Regions from separate parts of the Homo sapiens genome. Here all the other regions are linked to region 2. The links come from fine-mapping of genetic effects on gene expression. A gene starts in region 2. Each other region holds a variant in brackets. All regions are shown on one strand. Distances are from middle to middle. Region 1 overlaps RXFP1 (relaxin family peptide receptor 1). Region 2 holds the start of ETFDH (electron transfer flavoprotein dehydrogenase). Region 3 overlaps ETFDH (electron transfer flavoprotein dehydrogenase). Region 4 overlaps PPID (peptidylprolyl isomerase D). Region 5 overlaps RXFP1 (relaxin family peptide receptor 1).

The links. PIP is the estimated chance that this variant, and not a neighbour inherited with it, causes the effect.
Region 1: its variant is the best candidate, but not a certain one, in a credible set for the expression of ETFDH in unexposed skin (GTEx, PIP 0.82).
Region 3: its variant is the best candidate, but not a certain one, in a credible set for the expression of ETFDH in tibial nerve (GTEx, PIP 0.76).
Region 4: its variant is the best candidate, but not a certain one, in a credible set for the expression of ETFDH in spleen (GTEx, PIP 0.72).
Region 5: its variant is the best candidate, but not a certain one, in a credible set for the expression of ETFDH in whole blood (INTERVAL, PIP 0.62).

What each region holds. Positions count from the first base shown.
Region 1 is chr4:158,637,329-158,641,816 of GRCh38, forward strand. RXFP1 (relaxin family peptide receptor 1) reads left to right here. Exons shown (of 18, transcript NM_021634.4): 13 at 680-751; 14 at 1,932-2,003. Among named protein-coding and RNA genes, the nearest start is that of C4orf46, 32 kb to the right of the region's middle. The variant G/A (reference allele first, on the strand shown) is at 2,403.
Region 2 is chr4:158,670,428-158,674,915 of GRCh38, forward strand. It overlaps ETFDH (electron transfer flavoprotein dehydrogenase), which reads left to right and starts at 1,869. Exons shown (of 13, transcript NM_004453.4): 1 at 1,869-2,063. The coding sequence starts at 2,030. C4orf46 (chromosome 4 open reading frame 46) reads right to left here and starts at 1,460. Exons shown (of 2, transcript NM_001008393.4): 1 at 1,189-1,460. The coding sequence starts at 1,374. RefSeq lists enhancers at 439-1,075, 1,076-1,712, 1,555-2,114, 1,716-2,217 and a silencer at 1,065-1,134.
Region 3 is chr4:158,707,387-158,711,874 of GRCh38, forward strand. ETFDH (electron transfer flavoprotein dehydrogenase) reads left to right here. Exons shown (of 13, transcript NM_004453.4): 13 at 978-2,237. The coding sequence ends at 1,141. It overlaps PPID (peptidylprolyl isomerase D), which reads right to left. Exons shown (of 10, transcript NM_005038.3): 8 at 3,376-3,462; 9 at 3,242-3,284; 10 at 1,741-2,438. The coding sequence ends at 2,350. Among named protein-coding and RNA genes, the nearest start is that of PPID, 14 kb to the right of the region's middle. The variant T/C (reference allele first, on the strand shown) is at 2,279.
Region 4 is chr4:158,717,802-158,722,289 of GRCh38, forward strand. PPID (peptidylprolyl isomerase D) reads right to left here. Exons shown (of 10, transcript NM_005038.3): 2 at 3,542-3,682; 3 at 1,379-1,485. Among named protein-coding and RNA genes, the nearest start is that of PPID, 3.4 kb to the right of the region's middle. The variant AT/A (reference allele first, on the strand shown) is at 2,556.
Region 5 is chr4:158,605,556-158,610,043 of GRCh38, forward strand. It overlaps RXFP1 (relaxin family peptide receptor 1), which reads left to right. Exons shown (of 18, transcript NM_021634.4): 6 at 2,417-2,488. Among named protein-coding and RNA genes, the nearest start is that of RXFP1-AS1, 43 kb to the left of the region's middle. The variant C/G (reference allele first, on the strand shown) is at 1,757.

The DNA of each region.
Region 1 (4,488 bases), 33 kb before region 2:
ATAATGGTTGTACTAATTTATATTCCCATCACCAGTATGCAAGGGGCAACCTTTTCTTCAAATCATCCTCAACCCTTATCTTTCATCTTTTTGATAAAAATTATTCTAAAAGGTGTGAGGTAATATTGTGGTTTCAGTTTGCATTTCTCTGATGATTAGTGATGTTGAGCACTTTTTCATATACCTGTTAGTCATTTATATGTCTTCTTTTGAAAAATGTCTATTCAAGCCCTTTCCCTAATTTTTAACCAGCTTATTTGTTTTCTTGCTGAGTTGTTTGAGTTCCTTACACATTTTGGGTATTAACCACTTACCAGATATATGATTTGCAAATATTGTCCCCCATTACACAGGTTGTCTCCTCACTCTGTTGATTGTTTCCTTAGCTGTGCAGAGGCTTTTTAGTTTTATGTAATCCCATTCATCTATTTCACTTTTGTTGCCTATATTTTTGGGGCAATATCCAAAAAAATCATCACCCAGGTTAATGTCCTGGGGCTTTCCACCTATGTTTTCTTCTAGTCGTTTTATAATTTTACAGTTTAAGTCTTTCATCCATTACGAGTTATTGTATACTTTCGTTCATAAATATGTTAAAGTAACCCAAAATAAACAGATTCACTCGCTTTACTCATGTAGTTTTTAGAAATGACCTATTGCTGCTTTTTTTAAAAAACAGGAATCTTTCCTATAATCCAATCCAGAAAATTCAAGCAAACCAATTTGATTATCTTGTCAAACTCAAGTCTCTGTAAGTATTCACATATGGGGATAGTTTTATGATAAAATTGTTTTTTAAATACTAACAATGTATATTTTTATATATTTACTTCAAATCATAAGCTTTATTTCCAAGACATTAGTTTAGCTCCACAAAAACATATGGGTGCTTGCTGAACTATAAACAGACAACTATTAGTTTTATCTTATATACTTGTAAATTAAAAAATAATGATGAATTATTTTATATTTTTCTATAAGTCATTAGGAGCTTATGTTGATTTGTTTGCTTTGACCCTTCAAAGACATCTGTGCATATTCACTCTCTTAACACTGGGTATTTTATAATTTATTATAAGTGTTTTTACCCCAAGATGGAATATGCTAGATTATATAAATCCTTACTTGTACCACACACACACAAAAAGACAAAAATTCTGTTAGAGCCAAAGAATTGCCTTAAAAGATAAGCTTCAGGGCTGAGTGCAGTGGTTCACACCTGTAAACTCAGCACTTTGGGAGTCCGAAGCAGGAGGATTGCTTGAGATCAGGAGTTGAAGAACAACCTGGGCAACATAGGGAGATGCTGCCTCTACAAAAAAATAAAAATAAGCAAATTAGTTGAGTGTGGTGGCATGCACCTGTGGTCCTAGCTACTTGGGAGGCTGAGGTGGGAACATTGCTTGAGTTGGGAGGTTGAGGCTGCAGTAAGCCCTGTTCATACCACCACACCAGCCTGGGCAACAGAGGAAGACCCTGTCTCAAAAAAAAAAAAAAAAGGTAAGCTTCAGTTCATTTAATTTGAGTGTTCCCTCAGTAAAATGACATTTTATTAGAAAAAAATTTATTAATTAAAAATTACTAGGAAATTTTCAAGGATGTAAAGCATCCTCTGCTATTGTAATATTGTACAAAAGATAATGCTTGTGCATTTATTCCACACATATTTATTGATTAGTTAAAATGCACAAAGCATTGTGCCATGATCTGTGAGGATCTGAAAAAAATCAAATAAGGAAGATAATACGTGTATAAATAACACAATCAGAAGGAGGAGGATTTGGGGAAGTGGGTGGGTTGAGTATAATTATTTTGTTCAGAGTAAGTGTTAACTAAAAGCATTTTATTAAATTGTCCTTCACAGAAACTCAATTTATTAAACCATGTATAATACATGTTCCTTTGATTGATTATTAATTTGATATTTTTAGCAGCCTAGAAGGGATTGAAATTTCAAATATCCAACAAAGGATGTTTAGACCTCTTATGAATCTCTCTCACATGTAAGTAGATATTTTATTGTTTTTCACTGTGATGTTAATATTTGTTTCCATGTGTATTATGATAATGCATCCAATCTATTAATATTTTCTACTAATTTGCCAGCTATAAACTGAAAGTTTGTGTTCCTCCAAAATGTATATATTGAAATACTAACCCCAATGCAATGGTACAAGGAGGTAGGGCCTTTGGGAGGTGACTAGGTCATGAGGACAGAGCCCTCATGAGTGGGATTAGTGCCCTTAGAAAACAGACTCTGGTCCAGGCCAGTGGCTCATGCCTGTAATCCCAGCACTTTGGGCGGCCGAGGTGGGTGGATCACCTGAGGTCAAGAGTTCAAGACCAGCCTGGCCAACATGGTGAAACCTCGTCTCTACTAAAAATACAAAAATTAGCCAGTC[G/A]TGGTGGTGATTCCAGCTACTCAGGAGGCTGAGGCAGGAGAATCGCTTGAACCCTGGAGGTGGAGGTTGCAGTGAGCCAAGATGGTGCCACTGCACTCCAGCCTGGGCGACAGAGTGAGACTCCATCTCAAAAAGAAAAAAAAAGAAAAGAAAAGAGACTCTGGAGACGACCCTTGCCCCTCCACCTTGTGAAGACAGACAGAGAAGATGGCCATCTATGAAACATGTGGTCCCCTACCAGACACTGAATCTGCTGGCACCTTGATCTTGGTCTTCCCAGCCTCCAGAACTGTGAGAAATGAACATTTGTCGTCTAAGTCACTCAGTCTATGGTATTTTTGTTACAGCAGCCAAGTGGACTGAGACATGTCTAAACAATAATTAAAACTCTTAAACCTTTGATATTGGGTGAGATGATTTTAGTTTTCCACAGTCTGGTAGAATCTCATAGGAGATTTTTTGAATCTCAGGAAACATGATGTGAGGGGAATCCACTTGGTCTTGTAAGAAGTTCTCCTCAGCTCTAATAACTGTTCACAGATATTGATGTTTGCCTAATGAGCTAGTAATTGGTGTATAGGGTGTGTTAGTCCATTTTGCATTACTACAAAGGAATATCGGAGGCTCGGTAGTTTATAAGGAAGAGTTTATTTTGGCTCACAGTTCTGTAAGTTGTAAGAGAAGCATGGTACCAACCTCTAATTTTGGTGAGGTCGTCAGGAAAGCTTTTAATCATGGCAGAGGACAAAGAGGGAGTAGGTGTGTCAAATGGCGAGAGAGAAAGCCAGAGAGAGAAGAGGAGGTGCCAGCTCTTTTTAACAATCAGATTTCATGTGAAATAATAGAAGGAGAACTCACTTATTACTGCAGGAAGGACACCACACCATTCATGAGGGATCTACCCCATGACCCAAACACCTCCTACTGGGCCCCACCTCCAACATTGGGAATCAACTTTTGACATGAGATTTGGAGTAGACAAATATCCAAACTATATCACATGGTACAAGTGCTACCAGATGAAGAGGAAGGAATTTATATAGGCAATATAAAATAATTATAAATAAATCAATGCTGCAAATGAAGGTAGTTAAGAAGAAGTCTTTCTCAATGAAAATATCCCCATATATCAAGGCATGATTCAAGCAAGCGTGCATGGATGAAATGGTAAACTTTGAAACATCTTTTATTCAAAGAGTATGTCTAGTTGTACCTGTGATTACATGCTTTAGAAGCACTTTTTTAATTGAATGCAATTTCATAGCAGTTATTAGAATGATCCATGCCATGGAAATTAATTTTCAATAATTTAGATACTGTCAGCTACCATCAACTCTGTAATCTTGCTTGTATTTTAAGTCTAACACAGAACCCTGTTTTTGTTTTCCATAGTTCCTCAGAAAGATGGCTTATAAAAGATTCCTTTCTTGTATGCAACATAAAGCAATCTGACTAAATTAAACAGAACAGAATTTATTGGAAGAAAATGGTATAACACAGAATCTGAGGAATAATTTATAGCCTCTGGAATTATCCATCCAAGTGTCATTCAATCAGATTCAGTTTCAGGGAAGAGAATCTAGTTGATCACGTCTAGGGTACTTACCTACTCTGGGCTAGGGATTGCCTCCACTGAAGGTCCCACCATAACTTCTCAAAAAGGGAGAAGTAATTCTCTCAAAGGAAATCAGAACACTATTATCAGAAGAGTGATTGAGTGCTGGGCAGCCAAAGCGGCAAACAGAGTTACTATAATTCTGTTGATAAAAGCAAAACTTCAGCCTAAGACACATAGTAAAATACCAATCAACACTCCTTCTTTCCTCATGTTCTGCTCTCCTGTCCTTCATGGTTTACAGAATAAATGGATATAACCGAATGGGGAAATATCAGCAATTGACCTTGAGCTTGACAGGACAAATTGTAATCATCAGGTTTTTATCTTTTCTTATTATAGCTCTTTATACACTAAAGATCGTTTATATTTTTTGGCAGAACACATGGCTTTATAGACAAATAGATCTAATTTGAAGTTCAATTTGCATATTTAGTAGAAAATTTCCTAGCAAATAACTTGCCTCCACTG
Region 2 (4,488 bases):
ATAATTCTTACTGCTATTTGGGTAACATGGGCATTGACCTGTGAACACTTTAAACAATGAAAATGTATAGATCAAAGAACAGAAACTCTGAGCTCTGACAAATAACATTAAAAAATCACACACAAATGCAGAAAACACTCAGCTCCTGGTGGAAAATTCACTTTTCAGCCAAACGTTTTCTTCACCAATGATATAAAATAAAACAGTGTTCCTCAATAACACATTAGCACTTCATTCTACATATTTACTTGCAATCAGTTTGTTCTGCAAAAATAAAAGCTGGTTAAGCACTCTAGTCATCCTTAAAAAAAAATACTTGCGGAGCAATGAGATAATCTAGTTCATCCCCTAGTTTCCAATCTGCAGGAAAGGTCAGGCCACAGAACTCTCCCAGGTTACACTCTACATACCTCATTCCACTTGACCCACTCAAGAGAACATAAAACTCCCCTTCCCTGTCTTCTCCCCTCCAGTGGTGTGTGAGTTACGGTTGGGAGGTGGGGTGCTAGTTTCTGGGGATTCGAGATTTAACAGAAACTATCCTAAGTATGCATTCTAGCAATCATACAAAGGGAGGAGTCCTGAACTAAACCGTCAAAGAAGCCAATCCACGTGACCTAAACCCTTCAAGCTGGGTCCAGCGCTAAGCAGGCCTGGGGCAGACAATGGCATTATCAGCTGTCCCTGGGCAGGTGGCCAACTAGAACAGCAGGCTCTAAGTCCCATGGAAAGAAATCACAGCCTGATCTCAAGTACCCACAGAAAGCCAGCAAACTCATGCAGTGAAAACTATTCTCCGAAACCCATGCAATGAAAACTATTCTCCGATGGGAAAGGAGGAGGCAGAGAGCCAGCAACAGGCAGCGCAGAGCTGCGTGGCTTCGGGTTACTGCGGATGATTGAAACCAGAAGGCGAGACAAAAAGAAACCAGTGAGGGGTGGGGCGGGTGGAAGGAAAACCCCTTAAGACTCCTCACCACTAAATCTAAAGGGGGAACCCTCAGAGAGGGGTGGCACTTTAGCTGCTGGCATCCCCCCCGCTTCCCGCCCGCACGCTCTGGGGCGCAGAAGGGCCGGTCGTCCCGGGTCATGGGGGTTGGGGGACCGATTCCCTAGCCTCGCGAGCCCCGCCGCCGCCGGTCTTCCCAGAGGCGCCGAGGGGGGACGCGGTCCCGACACCACACTCACGTCTCCGATCTGCAGCTCCACTTCCTCCAGCTGGTCCACCGTTGGGCCGCTGCTCCTGCTCGGAACTGGCCAGCCCAAACTCACTGGGCCGCCCGGGGAAGATGCTGCAGAGGCGTCTGAAGAGGAGGGAGAAGAGGGAGGCGGCGGGGGCGGCGAAGAAACCTGCAACTCCTCAGGGTCGGCCATGGGGAAGGGTTGGGACCGCGGAATCCGACCCGAGAAGCCGAACCGACACCAACTGTCTTTTAACCACTCGCGCCCAAAGCCGAAAGGCCCCGCCTCCTAACGCCAGAAATCCCGCCCAGTCTCCTCGTGGGTCTCAGCCCCGGACCACAAAGACGTTTCATTTTTCGGGACAGCCAATCATATGAGTCAATTCACCTTAGGCAACTCACGGCTCCTGCGCGAGCCTCCAATCGATCTCGAAGGGCACTCGTAGAGAAAACTACACCTCCCAGGAAGCCGTGTGCGTCGCCCCGCCTTCTACTGCCTTTCACTGCGCGTGCGTCGTGCTGTGGGATTCGCGGACCCCTCTGGCCGCGCTGTGGCTGTTTCACCGCTCCCCGGCTGGGACTTGGAGTCCCTTATCTTTCCCTGGTTTGGTACATGACCCGGAAGCCTCGGCTGGCCGTTGCGTCATCCATGGCGCCGGCGCAGAGCGAGAAGGAGGTGGGAACGCCGTGAAGCAAGAGCGGTCGGCAGAGCGGGGAGGCGAACTGCAGCAGAGTTCTTGCTTTCCGGCAGGTGATGGCGCCCCCCGCGGCCTAGAGGTCCAGCGCCCGCCGCGAGCAGCGGACAGTCCTCCTGTTGTGTCCGACCGAGAGTCCTGGTGACTTTGAACATGCTGGTGCCGCTAGCCAAGCTGTCCTGCCTGGGTGAGAGGAAACGGGCGGTGGGGATAAGTGGAGGAGTTAGGGCAAAAGGGACAAGGCCGGTCCTGGGGGCTGTAGGCACCTCTCGCCCCTTCTCTCATCAGCTTTCTCAGGCTATCTAGGGCAAAGGTCACGCGCTGTCAGCCTGTTGGGGGACCCTGGCTTCCTCCCTCTGGGGTTGCCCCAGTTGGTAGAATTAATATCTAGGCTAAAGGTCAAGGGCGGGGAAAACTTGTCAACACGCCCTCGGCATCACCACCACCTGTCAACACACACACACCTCGGTGGACTCCTGAACTGAGGCTTCCCAAATCCTGGTTCTAATCTTCAAACCTCTGTTGGAAATGGAAAAAAAAAAATCGTATTTGCCCAGTTTTTCTCCCTGGTCCTGACCTGACTTTCGTCTTCGGAGCCATTCTAGTTCAGTCTAAAGAAATTGAAGTCTGATCTGTCACATCATGGTTAACATTCATATGTTGACCAAGTCACCCAAGTGTATCTGGAGCCAGTTTTTCTGCGTTGTCTAAAATTAAGGGCTGGGCGTGGTGGCTCAAGCCTGTAATCCCAGCACTCTGGGAGGCTGAGGCGGATGGATCACCTGAGGTCAGGAGTTCAAGACCAGCCTGGCCAACATTGTGAAACCCCATCTCTACTAAAAATACAAAAATTAGCTGGGCGTTGTGGCCCACTCCTGTAATCCCAGCTACTCAGGAGGCTTAGGTAGGAGAATCACTTGAACCCGGAGGTGGAGGTTGCAGTGAGCTGAGATCGCACCACTGCACTCCAGCCTAGGTGAAAGAGCCAGACTCCGTCTCAAAAAAAAATTAAATTAAATTAACTCTAAGGGCTTTATCGTGTTATGGGTATTCTGTGAACCATCGTGACAGATGAAGTTGGATGGTCTTTTTAAAGTTTTACTTAAATTTTTGTTGTTGTCGTTAATTCAAACAGAAAAGTTCCCTAAAGGATCTCATATTCTGTCATAACTGGCTTAATTTTTTTAAATCTTTAGTTTACTTAAGTTTTGGTGATAGAATCATTAAGTCTAAATATTCCAAATTCAAGGATATTCTTATGAAATTTCATGAAAGTAGAATTTTGTTAAATTTGGCTTCCATATATTAAGAAATTAGAACTTTGTTTAAATTTCATGTCACCCATGCATTTTTTGCTGCACTTAATGTATGGATAAGATGGTGTTTGGAACGTTAAAGTAGTCAGATGCTATCTGCCTTAGAGCCTAATTTAGATGCAATCAGCCTTGGGCCCAGTGCTAACCAAATTCCACTACCATTTCTGTTTTCTTTGGATGGCAATTCATTGCCATTTTCGTAGCCTGCTGGCATGAAAGAGGTAGACACCAATGTGCCATCAGTGTGACTTTGATATGGTGATGCTATGAGTTCAGTGGACTTTGTGACTTCTCTTCTCAACCACGGAGACTGAATATTCCAATCTCTAAAGTGAGATATCAGATGTGTTTTCAGAAAAGGGGTAAAGGTTGTGACTTTTTTTTCCAATCCTTTGGAGAAATTCAGACTACACAGTTCCAAATATTCTCAAGAAAATCAGTAGCTATACAAGCAGTAGAAATAGTTTGTCATATGTCAGTCATCAGTTTTCAGAAGTAAATAACTTCTATGCACTAAACTACAATGCATTGAAAACTAAATATTTTAAATATTCGTTATAGTGTATTTGAACTCTTGAACTGAGTTCTAGAATATCTTTATGTATTTAATATACTTTTTTTTTTCCAAAATTGAGGATAGGTGAATAGTTATCTAAGGCTTAAAAAGTGTTGCCAATATAGTTTTTTTGTTTTTTGGGGTTTTTTTGACACAGTCTTGCTCTGTTGACCAGGCTGGAGGGCAGTGATGTAATCTCAGCTCACTGCAACCTCTGCCTCCCGGGTTCAAGTGATTCTCGTGCCTGAGCTTCCGTAGTACCTGGGATCACAGGTGCCCACCACCATGCCTAATTTTGTATTTTTAGTAGAGACGGGGTTTTGCCATGTTGGCCAGGCTGGTCTCAAACTCCTGGCCTCAAGTGATCCTCCTACCTCAGCCTCCCAAAGTGCTGGGATTATAGGCATGAGCCACCATGCCTGGCCCCAGTGCTATAGTTTTTAGTATGCGTAAGTAAGTTCATTTCTTTGCCACTTTAAAAAAAATGACCAAACACAGATTTTTATTGCCTTTTCACAGAAAATTACTCTGAAAAGCATTAATCTTTTATAGTACCATGTGTCAAGGACTATCTAATATTTAGTCAACAAATATGTATACCTAACATTAGGTTTTCACGTACAACAAGGTCAGTGCTTTTGGAGCATGCTATCTGCTGGAGAATACAGACAACTAAAGACATTTATATTTTTACCCTTTTTTGGTCACATAAATGGTTTAAATTTTTAGTCTAATGATAT
Region 3 (4,488 bases), 37 kb after region 2:
TGGCTTTTGTCATTACAGTGGGTTGAAAACTCCCTGAGGTTAAATTTGGTTTTTTAGCTGTACCGTTAGGCTCCTCTTACCCCCAGTCACCCACGGTCTGAAAATAAGAAAATTCCAGAAACAAATAATTCTTGAGTCTTAAATTGTGCACGTTAAGTTTTAAATTGTGTACCATTCGGGCTTGCCCCACCCTGAATGTGAATTATCCCTTTGTCCAGCATATTCACACCTAACATTCGTTATGTTACTTGGTAGCCATCTAAGTTATCAGATTTACTGTCACATTATCATACTTGTGTCCAGTAACCCTTTAGAAATATCCCCACAACGCAAGAGTAGTGATGCTGACAATTCAGAGATGCCATAAAGTGCTTCCTTTAAGTGAAAGGAGAAAGTTCTCTATAAAGAGAAAAAAATCCTATGCTGAGGTTGCTAAGGTCTATGGTAAGACTGTATCTTCTGTGAAAGAGGAAAAAGAAATTTGTGCGTTTTGCTGTTGGACCTCGAACTGTAGAAGTTATGGCCAGAGTGTGGCAAGTGCTTCCTTAAGATGGAAAAGGCATCACATTTGTGGGTGAAATACATGAACAGAAACGTGTTCTGACTGACAATGTAAGTTGAGTACTACCTGAGGTTTCAGGCGTCTACTGGGGATCTTGGAACTTGTCCCCTGTGAATGAGAGGATGACTGTGAATAAGGGAGGACTTCGAGGTTGTGTGGAACTCAAACACTCAGTGTCGAGTACCCTTGATAGTGAGACAACTCAGCTGAATACCGCTGTACCTCCTTTTATTATGTACATGTAATTTACACTCACATCAATAGCAATGCACCAAGGTCTTCATAATCTCTATGGGTAAGCATTCAGAAAGCAACCTTTAAGGTTTCTGTGGCTACTCTTTCCTTAATTTTTACTTTTGAATTTAAAAATTTTTTAAAGTTAGGCACTTCAATATTATTTATTTTTACTTTTCAGGAGTTTATGAATTTGTACCTGTGGAACAAGGTGATGGATTTCGGTTACAGATAAATGCTCAGAACTGTGTACATTGTAAAACATGTGATATTAAAGATCCAAGTCAGAATATTAACTGGGTGGTACCTGAAGGTGGAGGAGGACCTGCTTACAATGGAATGTAAACTGCAGCTAGCCAGTTTCTTTCAAGTATGGCAAGCTAACGTTAAAATGTTTAGAGATTAACAGATTTCAGAATGTCTTTCTGCATATTACTGAACAGAATAGTCACAAAATGATTATCAAATAAAAATTTTATACTATATGTAAGATTGTCCCATAAAGAAATTACGGGTATTGCTTTTAAATAACCTTTATAAGAATGCAGCATCTTCCTACCTCTTCAGTTCTTCAGAGATTCAGTACCAAGAGCAAAATTCACTACTGGACTTTACATTTGACTTGCCAAAGTTAAGTAATCAAATATAAAAATGAATATATATTCTAGACTAAAGTTTTATTGAAACACAGCCATACCCATTGGTTACACATTGTCTATGGCTAATTTTGAATTACAACTGTGCAGGTGAGTGGGTGTGACATTACATGGTCTACAAAGCCTAAAAACTTTATGATCTGGCCCTTGCAGAAGAAGTATGCCCATCCCTGAACAAGTTTGTGTGTGTGTGTGTGTGTGTGTGTGTGTGTGTGTGTGTATTATCTATAAGTATGAAAACCTAGCATCATCCACCATGGATACATCAAAGAATCGAAGGAAACAATATACAAACTTAAGCTCTCATCTCTTTATTCAATAAGATGTGTCTTTACAAGTTTAAAAAGACTGGACACCATTATTTTTTATGAATAATGCACATAACCATTTTAAAAAACATTTTACTTGGCCGGGCACGGTGGCTCACACCTGTAATCCCAGCACTTTGGGAGGCCAAGGCGGGGTGGATCACAAGGTCAGGAGTTCAAGACCAACGTGACGTGACCAATATGGTGAAACCCCATCTCTACTAAAAATACAAAAATTAGCTGGGCGTGGTGGCACGTGCCTGTAATCCCAGCTACTTGGGAAGCTGAGGCAGGAGAATTGCTTGAACCCGGGAGGCAGAGGATGCAGTGAGCCGAGATTGCGCCACCGCACTCCAGCCTGGGTGACAGAGCAAGACTCCATCTCAAAGAAACAAACAAAACCACTTTACTTACTGTATTGTGACATGTTTATTAAGCATGAACCCCTATCAGTACTCCTAAACTGTAAACAGTAAGGAACTAAGGTGTCAAAAGAAACACATTAGGGATCATATTCA[T/C]AGACAAAAACCTTTACATTTTCTTATTGCATTTATACAATCAACACACAATAAGCAAAACTGAATCCTTTCTAAGCAAACATTTTTGCATATACTGCCTTCTCTTTATCTTTCTGTGCCTTTATCTTTTGTTTGACTTTCAGCAATTCTGCCTGGATAGCTGTAAAATAAATATGCAATGTGAGTTATTTCTCAAAATATCCAAAAAATTATGGTGACTAACAAACTATTTTAATGTTAACTACCCCTTGAAAAAACTTCTCTACAAAGTAACTAAGCCCTAGTAACAGAAAATCTGAGCAATCACACAAACACAGAAATGAAACGTAATTTTAGAGGATGTCAACTGAGAGAACTCAAGTACATCAAGATTTGCCTTCTGCCTCTACATTAGAGAACAGTAATTGCTTCCCTTGTTTCATTTTAGTAATAAGAGACCAAAGACATTTTGTAATACCCAGATCTAGTGTCACTATTCATAGTTGGTTTATTTGAAAAACAAGCTTATTTTTGTCATAGTTTCCTAAAACATATAACCAGTACATCAATACTAAGGTTATAGCCACATTCAACTTGAATGGTCCCAAATGTTAAATTTACCATGAATACTGTGTCTTACAATGCTGAGCTCTCGACTAGACTAACCAGAATAGGAACACAGTCTCAAAGGATACCATAAGACAAACAGTATTTAGACATATAAAAAACTACAGAGATGATAACTTGAAGAATAAATAACGTGAAAAACTACTATATTCTTGAATGGGAGTAGAATGTAAGCTCTTTGAGGGCAGGGACTTTGACTGTCTTGTTCATTGCTATATGATAATGCCTGGCCCAACAGCAGGCATTCTGTAGTGTCTGTTGAACAAACATCTAAAATCTGGCAAAGTGAACAATGGTTCCTGAGGATAAGTATTTAAATAACAAAATTAACTTTCACTACAAAAGCTGCCAACTTACCTTTATCTTCTGGTGCTATCCCCTGAGCTTTCTTAAGATCAGCCTTTAATTGGAAAAAAACATTTAAGTTAGGTGTATGATTTATAAAGGTAGTTGTCTATTTTAAAAAATTAAACATTTGGAACAAAATTTACCAATGCTTGATCATATTCTTTTAATCCTTGCCATCCTTGAGCTCTGCGGTACAATGCTTTGGTATTTGATGGGTCTAGTTCAAGAGCCTACAAAAAAGTATAAAGCTAGTATTTATATCAAAGTATTAAGCTTATATGCCAGATTTCAATTCATTGCCTATCAACTCCAAACCCATCCTTCACTGCTCTGTGAAAATGGAGCTGAAACATGCAAATAGCTCTCCTCTGCCAGTGGGCACTAAGTTTTGTCAGCAGAGGGCACTGAATGGACATGGAGGAGAAAGACATTTCTCTAGTTTCCAATATGCTCCCCACTGTGGTTTCAATCTCCCGAATGGGCCTGAACTAACACTTTTAAGATAAAATCATTTTGAAGAAACATTTGTATACACTTTTTACTTGAATTATAAGTTTTTTAGGAACATTAATAACTTAATAACTCTTAAGTTATAAACTCTTAAGTTTTTGTTTTTTGTTTTTTTAAGACAAGGTCTCACTCTGTGGCCCAGGCTGGAGTGCAGTGGCCTGATCACAGCTCACTGCTGCCTCAACCCCCCAGGCTCAAGTGCTCCTCCCACCTCAGCCTCCAAGTAGCTGGGACTACAGGTATGTGCCACCACACCAGACTAATTTTTTTTTTTTTTTAGAGACAGGGTTTCACCATGTTGCCCAGGCTGGTTTCAAACTCCTGGAATTAAGCGATCTGCCCGCCGCCGTGGCCTCCCTAAGTGCTGGAATTACAGGCATGAACCACCATACCCAACCTAGGTTCTTACCTACAACAGGTCTTTTAACCTAAGAGACTTTATGCATCAGGTCTCTCCCCTAGAACAAACATTTTAAAATTATCTTTTGTTTATGTAACATCTTTTAATGGCCAATACTCAGATTTTACCTGCCTCACAGGTCAAAAAGAGATCGAGGCTGGGCAGAGAGGCTCTTAACTATAATACCAGCACTTTGTGAGGCCAAGGCGGGTGGACAGCTTGAGCCCAGGAGTTAAGAGACCAGCCTGGGCAACATGTCAAAAACCCATCTCTACAAAAAATTTAAAAATCAGCTGGGTATGGTGGCAAGGGCCTGTAGTCCCAGCTACTTAGGAGGCTGAGGTAG
Region 4 (4,488 bases), 47 kb after region 2:
GGAGAGTGCTCAAAAGAAACTGCTGCATACATCTTGAAATCAAAATTCTACCTTGGCATAATCCTGTCAAAGGATCTATGAAACCCAATTTCTTAACCTTTTCACTTTATCTCCTAGGCTTTCTAAATGTATTCCTTGTTGGTGCATGCACCGTAACTCTCATGTTATATAATGTTTCATGACACCCCCCACCCCACCAAAATGCCTTTTACTCCCCTCAGTCTAAATCAAATTCAGATTTTAAGGCCACCACGTTTATAGAAAGCAAGAATCATGTGTCTTGTCTATAGGCCCCTTTTCTCTATGTCAATGTGATCATCACATCACCTTTAGTTTTCATCCTTCTGGTAGCTTCCTTTGGTACAACAGTAACTAGAACTTTATTTCCTCAACGTCTCTTGCCTTTGTCTTTCCTCACCGACGTCCCTTTTTAAATTCTGCATCAATACTACAGTTCCTGCCTAACCAAATCTCAGACATGTTGCCGCCTTGCAAGACCCAGTCTGCACAGCCCAAGTAGCCATTCCTCCTCAATGACTTCCATAATAATTCAGACTGCATAAATCACATCTTTCTCCTGCAGTATATAGACAGTATTAGCAATGTTATACAAGCAAGGATATTCAATCAATTTAGCATTTATTTATATACTATTATTCTCCAGTAGTCCCATGTATCTTAATCTTGTCTCTGAGGTAGGATTATAAATTCCTTGTCATCAAGGCCTTTCATTTTTATAAACCCTTTGGTGCCAGTGATAGTGGCTCAATAAACACTGACTGGAAGACTGACGACATTTTTTCAAATTATCCTAATACCCTTGCTCATATTCCTTATTTCCAAAAATATCACTTTACTTTTGTACTTACATGTCCATTCTTATAACTTGAATGATGCAATATACCCCAATTACATCTTGGGACAACGAAGACAAGAAGGCACAGGCACCACTGAAGTCCTTTAGGAGCTTGGACATTTAACTATATCTGCTAGTGTGCAAATCCCCTGACATCCTGGATATTAGTGATGGTTTTGTTGCTCTTCAAATTCAAGGATAAGGATGCACAAGTTACCATCCTTCCAACAATGGAAACATTTTTCCTGGAAACAATTTTGCCAGATGCTGGTCGCATTTAAAAACTCACTGGCTTAACTGAAGCATATAAAAACTGGATCACAATGAAATAATGCTGAATTAATCATTACTGAATGAAAACTTTTCCATATTAAAGAACCATTATTTACAAAAGTGATTCCTATTACAAGAAATGGAGAATCTAAGCACACTTGAAACATTTTTTGGTGTCTTAATCCAACAAGTATTCCAGATATATAACAATCTTTTTATCAGCAATAACATGCATTTTCTCTACTTTACCTTGTAATGGAAATTTTCATCTTCAAATTTTTCACCATAAATACTTTCTCCACCTGTCCCATTCTGATTTGAGAAGTCTCCACCCTGAATCATAAATTTCTTAATAACTACAAAAAAGGAAAATGGCTATTAGTGACTGAGACATGGATGCCTTTAGCAATGCTTACTAATGGATACGTACGTAAGACAACTTTGTAGTGCATGACTCTAGTCATGTCTCTCTCCTGTTTGTCGCTCCCCACCCGTCTCCGCAACTCCAAACGCTTCAGGCTTTTCACCATCTGAATCCAACCTATTTTCACTGCCTGATCCCTGCTAACATTCAGAAAATCGGTTCAAATGATACCTCCCCTATAAAACTGTCACTGAAATCCCTAAGCTGTATGTCCTAATTTTTCTCCCATAGTATCTTGACTCTGCCTACATAACATATGGCATTATGATCTGCCCCTTCCAGCAATGATCTCCTTAAGTACACCAACTGTATTGTTTTACATCCTTATAACTATGTGCATGTACACATAGTACATATTAGTTACTCAATAATGTCTGCTGAATACAGACCAATGATTCCCAGTAGATTTGTTCTACCCTAATGGAAAATTTTCAGCAAATATATCACTTTGTGTCAAAGGTTACCAAGATTGCTTTCATGTTCAGAGAACCCTAGAGCTCACACAAATCAGTATGTGGTTGGATCACAGTGGTAAGGATACACAGCGAGATGACGGGAAAGACACAGGCAGAGTCTGGAAAAATCCATGTGCAGGCTTCCTTATGCTTTCTCCGTCCCATGAAGTGCTACAGAACACACACTTCCCCCAGCAACAAAAATGCAGCAACATGTACACAGTATTTCTGCCCAGGAGAGCCAATTAGAGACTCAGCACCCAAGGTATTTATTGGGCACACTCTACCTAGCATGTACCAAAATTCCAGACTCCCCAAAAGAGAGCACACATTCATGTTTGTACAAATAGGCTAGGCATAGTAAATCACCATTACTATTTAGGAAATGGTACAAGTGTCAAGTTCCCAGACTCCAAACAAGTGCTACTCTTGCAGGCAGACCTTTCTAAAGATAGCAGTCTCACACTTGCTATGTTAAATATTTTCTGCATATAGTTTATTAGCATATTTCAAGTTTTTATTAAACATGAAAGTAAACATTTTAAAT[AT/A]TTTTTAAAAAGTTAATTTTTTCTTAATAAATCGTTTAAAAAATGTTGCTCTTGTGATTATTGCTTATTTGCCTATTTATTAAACAAATACTTACTGAGTTCTTACTCAATAACTGTATTAGATGCCAAAAACAAAATGGTGAAAACATACAGTTCTTGAACTCATAGAGCCTGCAGTCTATTGGGAGAACCATTATCACTAAACAAAAGTATGATTCATTACAAAGTGTAATAAGCAGTATGAAATGGCATATTTTGACCACACTATCACCCATGTGCCCAAAACACTGAATCTTCAAATCTGCTGCCTTCCCAAGCACTCAGGCCCAAAAATTATGCATTTTTTTGTTTGTTTGTTTGTTTGTTTGTTTGTTTGAGGCAGAGTCTCACTCTGTCGCCCAGGATGGAGTGCAGTGGCGTGATCTCGGCTCACTGCAAGCTCCACCTTCTGAGTTCATGCCATTCTACTGCCTCAGCCTCCCGAGTAGCTGGGACTACAGGCGCCCACCATCACACCCGGCTTATTTTTTGTATTTTTAGTAGAGACGGGGTTTCACCGCGTTAGCCAAGATGGTCTCGATCTCCTGATCTCGTGATTCACCCGCCTCAGCCTCCCAAAGTGCTGGGATTACAGGCGTGAGCCACTGCGCCCGGTCTATGCATAACTTTTTTGTCACCAGGCAATGAAGCTACCTAAGGTTGGTTGACTACGGCCTTCCTTTCTCAATCAAATCATCTTAGAGTGAAGGAGAATGAGAGGATGGGTAAAGCTAGGGGAGTCCATTTCTCTATAGATAAACCTTAGTACCATAAGTAATTCCACCTCGCACAGCCTAACCTTTACGAAACTGCGTTACTGCCTCAGACATGGACGCTAATAGTACTTTTTAAGCTTCACTTCCTACTTAGTGTTTTCTTCCCCAAATCCTAAAGAACAGGACTTGTCTGTATGAAGAATAACAAGATTAAGAAAATTTACACATACTTCGATGAAAAGGGCATCCTTTGAAATGGAGAGGTTTCCCAGTCGTGTGTCCAATGCCTTTTTCTCCTGTACACAGTGCACGAAAATTTTCCGCAGTTTTGGGTACGATATCTGCAAACAATTCTAAGACAATTCGACCAACTAAAAGAAAAGAAAATCTTGTCAGTATGCAAAACAACCAAATAGACAAATGATAAAAAGAAGGTTGGTATAATTATGGTAGCAGATCAATCATGAATTACCAAGTTCCCCTTTACTGTAATTTTTCTTTTTTGCAATTTCAAGAACACAACACATTGCTACTAACTATAGTCATTATGTTATACAATAGATCTCTTAAATTTATTCCCCCTTTCTAACTGAAATTAGGTCTCTCGTGATCAACATCTACCCAACCCCTGAAATCCACCATTCCATTCTCTACTTCAAGGTCAACTTTTTAGAAACCACATGTAAGTGAGATCATGCCTTGTCTTCCTGTGCCCAGCTTATTTCATGTAACATAATGTCCTCCATATTAATTCATGTTGTCAGAAGTGACAAGATTTCATTATTTTTTATGGGTGAATAGTACTCCACTGTGCACATATATCAAATTTTAAAAAAAATCCATCTGTAGATGGAAACCTAGTTTGATTCCATTATCTTGGCTATCATGAATAATGCTGCAATGAACATGGGAGTGCAGATACCTCTTTGACATACAAACTTCATTTCCTTTGAATATACTCACTAGAATTAGTGAATCTTATTTTATTCTAATATTCAAATTTAGTCTACCTACTGTCATGTATGTATATAAACAGATTTGAAACATTACACTAAGGATCATAACCAATTATAGTAGCCAAAAGATTAGCACCATGTAAGAGATATCATTAAATACAAATAGTTTTAAATCCTGAGTAATTTCTTCAAGAGGTACTGAGAATTTCCAATCACCAAGC
Region 5 (4,488 bases), 65 kb before region 2:
CACCTAAAATAGCAAGTCACTGTGGGTTGAAACCTCTGAGCATGTTGTCTTGGAGACTTGATTCCATTTTCACATCTGCCTTGTGAGTTGCGTTTTATTTTGGCCTTGAGTAGTATCTGACATGCTAGCTTCCCTTCAGAACTCTCAAAATCCATACTGGCCCACGGGATGTTTACCTGTTATTTAGGTCTACTTTGTGACTAAATTATGTTGTCATATGGTGAATTGCTGGGTTTAGATAGTCTGTACCTAAATCACACTAACTAAGAAATATCTCAGGATTCATTGTTTCATTTTTATACCAATATAGATTGGTTCTTATTTTGGTTTTACAATAGGGAAACCTGATAAATTAATATATATCTGTACATTTTTAAAGATAACAGATGGAAATTGAGTGGAATCAGAAGAAGAATTAACCCACTTCCTTCAGTGAAATGTTCTAAAAACCCAGATAGTCTGCAGAAGTATCTATTTCATATTTGAAAATAGAAATTCTAATGAAAATAACTTTTCAAAATTTCATTCTGAACATTTATCAGTCAAAAGAGAAGAACTTTTCACAATTAGGCCTGACAAAACTTCAAGAGTACACTGACTTATTCTATTTTCTGATTTCTGGAGACTGAAGAATTTTTCTGTAGCATCACCTTGTGTCCACTTATTTAAAGGAGCTAGACTACAAATCTAAATATCAAAATTCAGGTTTATATAATGCAGTGGCTTAGCATTTTTGCACAATAAACATTGAATTAATTCTCTTTTTTGAACTAACCACCATACTAATGTGGATGAATTAATTCCTGAATGACCAATTTGTTCCATATAACAAAATGATCAAAATAGCCTAATTATTTAAAAATTTCTAATTGGTTATTAAAAGTCTATACCTTTAGACCTCCAGGCAATGCAGCCTATTCCTTAGTAGATCATTATAACACTAGAAATAAACAAACAAATGCATGATAAATGAGAACCATTCATTACCTACTACATGATTGGGCCCACAGCATGTCCGGTTCAGGTGCATAATAATTTTTTTTTAAGAGACAGGGTCTCACTCTGTCACTCATGCTGGAGTGCAGTAGTATGATCATAGTTCATTGCACCCTCAAACTCCTGGACTTAAGTGATCCTCCCACCTCAGACTCCCAGGTAGCTAGGACTACAGGCATGTGCCACCACACCTGGCTCCTTTTTTTTTTTTTTTTAGAGAGATAGGATCTCACTATGTTGCCCTGCCTGGCTGGTCTGTTTCAAATGATCCTCCTGCCTTGGCCTCCCAAAGCTCTGCAATTATGGGCATAACCCACTTCACCCAGCCTATAATAAATTTTATAATAACATTTCACAATCAAAGTTAGGTTTTCTTGCATGTTGGAGAAATAGGGTACTTTTCAGTCAAAATTTATAATTTAACTGAATGTTCGCTCATATTGATTTCTTTCTTATTGCTCCTAAAAGTTATAACAAATTGCATATAAACTTTCAGGACACTCTAAAGAACAATGGTGACCTGCACTCAGAACATGAAGGCAGCCTTGAAATCCTTACTTTATCATTCCCGCAATCTGGGGCAAGTACACATAGAAGTGCAAAACTTTGTGTGGGTGCAATGATGCAATAGCGTATACTCTGGTACCCATTTCCTTTGACCTCCAGTTAACTCAAGGTCGTATTTTCAGTATTACTTTAGTTAACTATGTAAGCCTGCATTCTTGTCTTGACATTCCAATCTAATTTATATTCTTCTAGT[C/G]CTGATTATTTTTATGTTTTTTTTCTTTTGCCACTTTTACTCCTTATAAATTTCCTCCAAACAGTCTTTGGAACAAGGTTTGGATGTCAAATTAATGAGATCAAAATTGATTTGGTTGACAGATTTGTGATTAACATAGAATATGGTTTGGGACATTAAAAACATCATACACTTTTAGGTTGGCTAGCACTGTGTTGAGCACTTAACAAGTTTAAAGAATTATAACAAGACCCGTATTAAAAGTCTGGCTTCTAGACTTCTGATTTATGAGGGCTTTACTATGTGTTAACATTTTATTTCTAGAAAATTCAAATAGTAAGCTTTGGCTGTTATTCATTCATCTTTATAACTAGAATTTCTAAATACAAACCAGCCTAATTGTACATAAATTTAACAGAAACATGAAGTGACATGATATCTGGCTTCACTAAATTATTTTGTAATGTTTACCTTTTTCAATTTTTAAAATGTTTAATCGTCATCAAATACACATAACATAAAATGTGGCATCTTAACCATTTTTAAGTCTACCTTCAGAGGCATTAAGCACATTCATATTGCTATGCTACCATCACCATCATCCATCCACAGAATTCTTTTTGTCTTGCAAAAGTGAAACTCTGCTTCATTTTTTTTTCTTTTTAATAATCATTTTCACAGGTACCTGCAAAACAATAAGATTACATCCATCTCCATCTATGCTTTCAGAGGACTGAATAGCCTTACTAAACTGTAAGTACCAGTGTGAATTAATTTGCCCATTCCATGGTAGTCTGACAGCCTAGACTATTCCAATCCAGACCAGCCTCCCTGTCCATGACAGTACCAAGGAGCCATGCAAGTGATGCTGAAGGGGCAGTAGAGCACCGTGGCTAAGAGCATAGGATTGTGAGTTAGACAGGCTTCAGTCCAAGTCCTGATTGCCTTACTTACTAGGTGTGTGATCTTGAGCAATTTGTATTCCTTTCTTTTTTTTTTTTTTTTTTTTTTTTTTTTGAGACAGAGTCTCTCTGTCACCCAGACTGCAGTGCAGTGGCGCAATCTCAGCTCACTGCAGCCTCCGCCTTCCAGGTTCAAGCAATTCTCTGCCTCAGCCTCCCGAATAGCTCCAGCATCCAGCATGAGCCATAGACCAAGACCCTGTCTCTGACAAAGAAAAAAAAAAAGCCTGATGATGATATTTGTGATGAAGAAGAAAAAACCCAAAGACTTCCCCAGTTATTCAATTACTCTTTCTTCACTAATCCCACTTTTACAAATGCATGAAATACTGTAAGGTTAAAGAAATAAAGCTTTTTGTGGTAAAATATACATAAGCTAAAATTCACCATTTAACTGTTTTTAAGTAAACCATTCAGTGGCATTAAGTACATTGACATTGTTATGGAACCATCATCACCATCCACCTCCAAAACTTTTTCATCTTCCCCAACTGAAACTCCATATTTGTTGAATAATAATTCCTCATATCTGTCTCTCCCAATTTCCCCCTCTCCCCAGCCCCTGGCAACCATCATTCTACTTTCTGTATTTATTAATTGGCTACTTTAAGTACCTCATATAAGGAGAATCATAAAATATGTAGTTTTTTGTGTCTGGTTTATTTCACTTAGCACAATGTCTTTAATGTTCACGTGTTGTAGCATGTGTCAGAATTTCCTTTTTTAGGGCTGAATAATAGTCCATTGTATTTATGTACCACATTTTGTTTAACTGTTTATCTGTCAGTGGACATTTGGGTTGTTTCCACCTTTTGGCTGTTGTGAATAATGTTGCCATCAACACAGGGATACAAATATCTGTTTGGGTCCCCACTTTCACTTTCACTTCTTCTGGGTATATACCAAGAATTGGAATTGCTAAATCAGATGGTAATTCTTTGATTTTTGAGGGACTGTCATTTGATTTGATTTTGATTTTTTAAGGGACTGCCATACTATTTTCCACAGCAACTGTACCATTTTACTTTCCAACTAGTGTTGCACAAGAGTTCCGATTTCTCCACATCCTCACCAACGTTTGTGTTCTCGTTTCATTTGTTTGTTTTGACAATAACTATCCTAATGGGTGTGAATGGTATCTCATTGTGCTTCTTTTAAAAAAAAAGGCTTTCTCAATGTTCCGTTTTATTGAGTTCTGCCATGCAGCATTCTAGAAGTAACTGGAAAGAAGTATAACCAAAAATCACATGAATACATAACTCCCTGTATTTCCATTTATGTCCCCTTGTTTTCCACCTATACTGTTCTGTATCCTAACGCAAGAAACCCATTCCAGTCAGATTTTTGGCTTGTGGTATCAGAGTTTGGGATTGAGTCGAGAAGAGCACCTAGTAATTTACTAGCAAAATGGAAGAAGACTGCAGGAGACTCGAAGCCTTAACAGTAACCACTTTAGCCATGTCCTCTCCCCTTCTACCCCATCTCTGCTCTTTTATGTCTTAGCAAAGTACCCAGAATCAATATTGGACTCACTCTTCAGGCTCCTGACTGTCTTCTTTCCATATATCTTTGCAAAATTTACTAAACACTATCTGTTTGGTTTAATGTTCAGTGAATGTGGAGGAAGCTCTTGAAAGGCAGTACAGAACTGGAGAGTAAACTTAAAAGTGTCCTCCCTCTCTTTTCATAGCTTTTCTATAGTGCTGGAGTGTTGTTGAGTGTTAAAGATGCCACATATTTCTAGTTAAATAATCATTAGTCCCAGCACTTTGGGAGGCTGAGGTGGAAGGA